2 linked regions of the Homo sapiens genome follow. The protein of the gene in region 1 purifies or fractionates together with the protein of each later gene. This does not show direct contact. Each region holds a gene or a part of one and is shown in the gene's direction. Other genes may lie near its edges.

Region 1 (4,334 bases):
TATTATGGAATCAAATTACTCAGTAGCGTATACCAGACAACATCTAGCATTCCGTAGAACATCCAGCAATCTTTCACTGTTTTCTGAAAGATAATACACTTAAAGCTTTTAACACATTGGCTCACAGTGAGAGCTCAGTAAATGTAATTTGCTTCTCCATTGTTAAAAGAATGAAAAACAAGATAATTGAGAATTTATAGCATTTCTGTGGAACTACAGTTCCCTGGATAGGTGCTGTATCTAGATTCATTTTTGATTTCATTGGGTCTTGCACAGTGCCTGGGAGCATTTATATACGTGGTCAGTAATTAAAAACAATTTATTTTTCCTACCTCTTAATAACTATCACAGTTGTTCAGTAATAGTTTTATTGGATAGAACTATGTTCAAGTATGTTCTAATTTATTCCCCTATCTGGAAAAATATGTATATTGTGAGAAAATAGGTTTGTCTTGCTTACATTATTATGTATCATATATTTTCATACTGGGGTTAACAAATATATTCTAAGCACCGAAACTGGTGGCCTTGAAAATGGCTAGACTAGCTGTTTCCTTTCATAGTCCAAACTGTGTGAATATAGCTAAATAAAAAATCTGGCTCTATTATAATAGCAAATGTGATTTTGTATGTGGAGTCTTAAGGCGTGATTATACTGTTTCTCACCATGAACAGTGATTTTTTACACATGATAAGGCAGGCTAGCAAATTCACATACATTACGGCTAGAATAATCCATTGCTTTAAAAACATGATTTTTACCTGCTTTTTAGATTGAGTGTTCTATAAAAATTTTTTCTTAAGTGAAAAAAATATGCAGAGGCTAATGTAGACTGTAAAATGAAGGAGAAGCTTAGCTTTACTGTGGAGTCTGGGTCTGGGTGTAACCTAACTAGCTAGAGGATATGCAATTCCTGATTGACAGCAGATCCAGCATTATGCAGATTTTGTAAGGGAGAACACTCAGCTCAGAAACAGTGATGAGAGGCTCTGTTAGGAATTACTACATTCACTACTCATATCTTTTAGTTTTCTGTCTACTGGATTTGTAAATAAATAGCACAAAACAGTTCCTCTTTTGTTTTTATTAAAGTGATACTGCAATGCAGTTCAGTCTGTCAGCTAGGCATACATGTGTGAAATTTGATATTCTCACTAAATTAGCTAATTTTTAGCTGTGTTCCATGCTTATCTCTAGACCTTTGTGTATTAAATCCTGTCTCGAGCTGTTCCCTTTATACACAAGTGTGTTTTGCTTGTGCCTTCCTGTCTTCTTCAGTGAGAAGCTTTATGTAGGTCAGGCTTGGCTTAAGCAGATTTCCTGAACCTGCGTCAGCTTAAGCTGGAGGAATTTTAATAAACCCTCCCCTGTAGGCGTGGGCCTAAATGAGGCTAGCCTAGTTAAGCCTGATCTTTTTCTGTTTGTGAAAAGAGCTGAGCAGAGCTGAAGGCTGCATGGTGGTTTCAGAAACTGCCTACTTAATTTGAAAAGAACAATGGTAGGAAAGGCTAGATCTTCCAATTTTACCTTATCCGAAAAGCTTGATTTGCTAAAGCTTGTGAAGCCATATGTGAAAATTCTCGAAGAACACACTAATAAACATTCAGTAATAGTAGAAAAGAATAGATGTTGGGATATCATAGCAGTTAACTATAATGCAATTGGAGTAGACCGCCCTCCTCGAACAGCACAGGGCCTACGCACCCTTTATAAAAGGCTCAAAGAATATGCCAAACAGGAGCTATTGCAGCAAAAAGAGACCCAATCAGATTTTAAAAGCAATATTTCTGAGCCAACCAAGAAAGTTATGGAGATGATTCCCCAGATTTCCAGTTTTTGCCTGGTAAGAGACAGGAACCACATACAAAGGTAAGCTTTATTTTGTTTTGTTATGGAAAATTATGGCGCCTCCTATCTATTGGGCTTTGGCTTAGTCGTGATAGAGATATGCATAGTAAGCATCCCCACAACGGGAGCAATGAATAGTGTCTTTGTTTTGCATTTTTTAAAAAGAGAAAAGTGAGGCTATGAGGAATTTTTCTGTTGCATTTAAGCTACTTTTTACTGTCTTCCCCTCCCCCTTCCCTCCTGTAGTTTCTAAAAGTAAAGGTTAGGGAGGAATAAGTGGGTTGAAATTTGTGACATCACTTCATAAACTTCTTAAGCTTTAAAATTAAATTATTTAGTTTGCTTCTGAGAGATACTTTTTTTCTCATTTAAGATTACATTTCACTGGAATTTTCAATTTTATATAAAATTTATATAAAGTTAGCAGTTTCTAGAGAAATGGAACCTTGCTTTTTTATGAATTGTCATTGTCTACACTTATTGAATATATGTTAACTAACAAATATAAACAAAATCAATAAGTAAACTTGTTAATGGCATGATTGTGTATATGAAGACAGTTTAAATTATTTTTCTAACACGTTTAAAATAAAGATGAACACAACTAAAGGGAGTTAATGCCTAATTAGGGATTCAGTTTACTTAATAAAATTAAAAGTTTTTTGTTGTTGTTGTTTTTATTCCTTAATAGTCTAGTTTCACTTTGATCTTGGGTCGTATAGGAAAGAGTAAGCTTTCTCTTACTGCTTTGCAAGGATATCAAATTATGAATTTTAAAATACCCCTAAGAGCAACTGGGTTTTTTTAGAGTTAGAAGCAATTTTTTGGTTAAACTTGTCTTCTATGTAACTATTTGCCTTGGAATTTTCAAAAGTATTATCTTGCCACTAATTCAGATTGTAACCTCTGGCAAAATATAAAAATGGCAGCTACATTCTTATTCTGAACCATTTAGGGTAATTTAAACAAATTGTAAACTCCTTGTTAGTTTGAGGAGCCTTTCAAACAAAGCTTTACACAATGTGCTTTTCTATTGGTGGAAGAGGCATTATATAAGCAAATTATTGATTACTATGAAATCCCTTTGAAATTAGGAGAGAAGCAGAAAAAAACCACTTTGTAGCCAAGTGCATATGTTATTTTGGTAATTTACTAGGAAAGTATTTTTGAGCCTAGCTTCTTACCAGATACTGCTTATTTCTACTTGATAGCACAGTAAAAAAAATATCACCAGTGGGAATCCAGGACATGAATACACAGTGGATTAATTCTTGGGGCCACTGGTTAAAATGTTCACTGTGATGACAAATGATGAAATCCCAATAGCTAGATATCCAGAAAACTACGCAGTAAAATTGTTTTATACTGTGCTACTTATGCAGAATTTTCTCTCCCTTGAACCATGGAGAAAAGTGTTTTTTGCATCGCAGGTATAAAACTGTACCCTTTGGTTAGTAGGTATAGGTTTTTATAATTTGAAAACGACATGTAGAAACTGTAATTTTAGTTAGTTGCATATTTTAAAAATAACAGTGAGTAGAAGAAAAATAATATATAAATATACAAGTATCTGGTTACATTTTGACTATTTGTGTGTGTGAATATTTACAATATTCACACACAAAAAATCTTTTGGGATATGAACATTTCTCTGATAAAAATGAGTTGATTTGTACATTTCTATACCTATGGCTTAAATAATACCAATTTGTTAGGTTTTAAAGGGAAGAATATAAGAAACATGCCTTTTAAATTCTTATGTTACTGTGTCTACATTGACATTTTCTCTGTATTAGCTTATTTCTTTAATATATATATTTAATGTGCTTATATTTATTTGATTGATATCATCCTTGAATCTTAATAATCTCAGAAGTTTATAATTATTCTATAATCTTAACTATACTTCTACATAAATATGCCTGTTAATCTTACCAAACTCTTCCTTTTTAATAAGGAAAATACTAGTGTTTGCGTTAACATACTTAAAAATATATACCTGTTTTGTAAGGCTATTTATTTTCTGTAACTCACATTGACTTATGTCTTTATTTTTACCTCTTCCTAATATCAGTTTATATTTTGTGTTTTTGTAAACTGATCTTCAAAGTTCTGATTCTCAAGTCCTTCTCTGTCATTTTTGTGACCTGCTCTAAAGCTTTTTTTCTCCCTTTTTATATTGTTATGCCTTAGTTGTAATGTTTTAGCTAAAATGGAAAGGAATGTTCCAGATATGAGGCATATTTTTAATTTACTTGGTAGTATTATGTCTATGTTTATACTCTCTATTTTACATACTAATTTGAAATAGTAATTATGTGGTTTTAAAAACTTAATTTTCATATGCAATTTTAGCCTTTTCCCATTCCAGGTTTTAGCAGAGCTATTAATAGAAGCAGAGCTTGCTACTTTGAATTACATTTATAATTAATTGTTTTGTTTTTGGAAATAATAAAATGACACAAACAGAGACAAGAACAAAAAT
Region 2 (3,819 bases), on another chromosome or scaffold:
AGTAGGGCAGGCAGAGGGGCTGGCAGGTGAGAACTCCAGGGGGTTTCAGGATGGGCAGCTGGGGTAGAGGGGCCAATGTTTCAGGGAAGATTATGAGTTGCCACCTCTGGCTCCCAGGAACACTTGTTTCCACTTGCCTTCCTCCTCATGAAGGGGCCTACCACTCCCCTACCACAGAGCCTTCTTCTGCTCTGTGCCTAGGGGAGGATCCTGCACCTGCTGTGCCCATCCTAGGGCTCAGCTAGCTAAGCAAAGCTGCCTGGCACAGGTGCACATCTGAGTCAGAGCACAGGGCCACCACGGGGCCAAGTCTCCACTGAAGGCAAATGACACTGGGGATGGACAGTTTCAGGCCCCTGCTTCAGGTAGAGTATACTATACTCCCAAACAATTATTTTTACTGACTGTGGTAAACTCAGGGCCCAAGATTAGAAAGCCTTTGGTTATTTGGCACAACGGTTATGAATGTGAGCCCTGGAATCTGTCTCCTTGGTTTCAAATCCCAGCTCTCTTCCTATGACCTTGGGTAAGCTACTAAGCTGTCTATGCCTCAGTTTCCCCATCTGTAAAGAAAGCATAATGATCCTTATCAGTTATGAGGCTTAAATGAAGTAATCCATGAATAGCGACTGATGTTGTTGCTTATTTGATACCTGGAAGTTAATAAAAATTTGCCTCTATAGCTGGCTCCCAGGGTCTGTGTGTGTCCTGGAGATCTGATCAATCTAGAGATTCTTTTTTTTTTTTTTGAGACGGAGTTTTTGCTCTGTTGCCCAGGCTGGAGTGCTGGAGTGCAAAGGCGCGATCTCAGCTCACTGCAACCTCCGCTTTCTGGGTTCAAGTGATTCTCCTACCTCAGTCTACTGAGTAACTGGAATTACAGGTGCCTGCCTCCACACAGGGCTAATTTTTGTATTTTTAGTAGAGACAAGGTTTCACCATGTTGGCCAGGCTGGTCTCGAACTCTTGACCTCAGGTGATCCACCAGCCTTAGCCTCCCAAAGTGCTAGGATTACAGGCGTCAGCCACTGTGCCCTGCCAATCTAGAGATTCTTAAGGGTTGTTTTGGAAGTGAGTAGGGCAGATGGTTTGTGGAACTAGATACCAGTAGACATCATAAAAAATGTGACTTTAAAGACCCTCCTCCCTCGAGCCAAGAGCTCTTCCTTCCTCTGATGGCCTGTTCTAGACCCTTCCTGACTGTGTGAGCCATCCTGCCGAGTCAATCAAAACTTACCTGTCTGACGTTCCATTCTCCAAAGGCGCCACTATTTTTCAGGTCTCCACGCAGGGATCTGGCCCAGCATGTTGGTTAGAAAGAATGATTTGCATTTTTTACATAACAAGAAACCTTTGCACTTGCGCAGGGTCCTGCTGGAGAAGCAATGCACAGTTCCACATGGTGGGTTCCCAAGACCCAGGGAAGACGCGGCGGGGCGAGTCTGGAAGCAGCCCATTGCTTAGCCCTGCTGGCTTCCCTCTCCCCACCAGCTGGTATGGGGCTGGTGGGCAGCTGTTGTTCTGCCCCAGAGATATTGTTTTCTGCTGTCTGTTCGGGTTGGCGTTTTGTTGCCCTGGAGCCAGAGAGGCAGCCCGGCTCAGGAGCTGTGCCCTGGGTCTCTCAGAAGGGGTGTGAACAGCTCTGAGCGCTTTCTTCTGACAGGCAGGGAGAGGGTGGTTTGGGGGAGGGAGGAGCCTGGGGGAGGGCGGCAGCTGTCAAAGCCAGTGCTAGGAAAAGAAGTCCATTTAACCATTGAATACACTAAGGTACTCAGGTCAGTGGAGCTAGGGGAATAATAACAGTGGCATTTACTGAGTGCCTACTGCATGCTAGGCACTTTACATCATATTAGGCTGAACCGTATGCAATTTCTACACTCAACTTTTTTTTTTTTTTTGAGATGGAGTCTCGTTCTGTCATCCAGGGTAGAGTACAGTGGCCCAATCTCGGCTCACTGCAACCTCTGCCTACTGGGTTCAAGCGATTCTCCTGCCTCAGCCTCTTGAGTAGCTGAGATTACAGGCATGCACCATCACGCCCGGCTGAGTTTTGTATTTTTACTGGAGACGGGGTTTCACCATGTTGGTCAGGCTGGTCTTGAACTGCTGACCTCAGGTGATCGGCCTGCCTCGGCCTTCCAAATTGCCGGGATTGCAGGCATGAGCTACCGCACCCAGCCCATCTGTTTTTAACCTATTCAAATAAATAACACAACTTGTTTTTTTTTTCTTTCCTTCCTTCCTCCCTCCCTCCCTCCCTCCCTCCCTTCCTTCCTTTTTTTTTTTTTTTTTTTTTTTTGAGATACAGTCTCTGTTGCCCAAGCTGGAATGCAGTGGTAGAGTCACAGCTCAATGCAGCCTCCAACTCCTGGGCTCAAGCGATCCTCCTGCCTTAGCCTCCTGAGTTGCCAGGACTACAGGCGCACACACACCACCACATCTAGCTAATTTTTAAATTTTTTTTGATTTTTTTTTGTTCGTTTGTTTTGTAGAGGTGAGGTCATACTCGGTTGCCCAGGCTGATTGGCTGATCTCAAACTCCTAGTCTGAAGCAGTCCTCCAGCCTGTGCCTCTCAAAGTGCTGGGATTAGGTGTGAGCCACTGCACCTGGCCTCACATAATACTTTTATATATTTCAAACTAAGGTTATTATATTAGTTCTCAATTGCTATGTGACAAATTACCACAAACTTAGTGGCTTTGAACTACAGCCATTTCTCATTTCCTAGTTTCTGTAGGTTAGAAGTCCAGGCATGACATAAAGTGGCTTTTCTGCTCAGGGTCTCACTAGGCTGGAATCAAGGTATTGGCAGGGCTGTGGTCTTATCCAAGGCTCTGAGTCCTCCTCCAAGCTCACCGGTGGGTGGCAGAATTCAATTTCTTGCAGCAGATAGATTAAAGTTCTGTTTTCTTCCTGGTTATTGGACCAGAGTGACTCTCAGCTCCTAGAGTCCACCCCCAGGCCCTTGCCACATGGCCCCCTCACAGCATGGCAGCTCATTTCTTCAAGGTCAGCAGGAGAATCTCTCCTAATCTGCTATGACAGAGTCTTATGTAAAGTAACTGTAATCACAAGAGTGAATATCTGATCGCCTTTGTTATACATCATAACCCAATCGCATGAGTGACTAACCTATCATATTCCCAGGTCCCGCCCACTCTCAAGGGGAGGGGATTATACAGACGTGTGTGCCACGAGACTGGAATCTTGGAGGCCATCTTATATTTCTGCCAATCACAATTGCTACGTCTTTTAAACTAGGATAGATAGATAGTAGTATTTTCTCTTTTTGCTGATTAGGAAATTGAGGCTCAGAGAGGTGAAGGGACTTGGCCAAGGTTACACAGTGAGTACACTTTGGAGAGAGGGATCCAACTCCTATTCCCTCAGACTTAAGACCTTGAGGGCTTCTTGAGATTGGAGGTTGGGTTCTCCAGGAGGATGGTGGTGGAGGCCTGAGTACCAACTATGGTAGGTGTGACCAAAAGGTAGGCAGTCTCTCCCCAGGGATGGGAGAGGCCTTCCTTGCTAACAGCTGCCTGTGGTTCTGAGCAGCAAACCCAGAACTGGAGGAATCCTTGGGGAGCAGAAACCACAAAAAGTCACAGGATGGAAGCCAGCCTTCGATGCCATCCAGACCGCACGGTAGTAGTTTACCATCCCTCCTTTCCCAGCTCACAGTTCACCCTGTTTAGACTCAAGGCGATACTCGAGATGGTCTACCCTTGGGAAGAAAGGGTAGGGAGGAGGCTGGGGAATTAGGCTGGAAAGCTCTGGGGCAGAGAGGAGTCAGGCTTGGGTAGGAATGATTCAGCTGT

What was found.
Region 2: the proteins of FSBP (region 1) and CPNE5 purify together in Homo sapiens (co-immunoprecipitation; one large-scale study listed by IntAct). This does not show direct contact.

The regions. Positions count from the first base shown.
Region 1 is NC_000008.11:94,434,031-94,438,364, reverse strand, and holds the start of FSBP (fibrinogen silencer-binding protein), read left to right. Parts: upstream 1-1,420; 5' UTR 1,421-1,496; coding exon 1,497-1,870; intron 1,871-4,334. UniProt on the Homo sapiens protein: Transcriptional repressor that down-regulates the expression of the fibrinogen gamma chain. Represses transcription of GSK3B gene promoter via its interaction with APBA1.
Region 2 is NC_000006.12:36,832,735-36,836,553, reverse strand, and holds part of CPNE5 (copine-5), read left to right. Parts: intron 1-3,819. UniProt on the Homo sapiens protein: Probable calcium-dependent phospholipid-binding protein that may play a role in calcium-mediated intracellular processes. Plays a role in dendrite formation by melanocytes.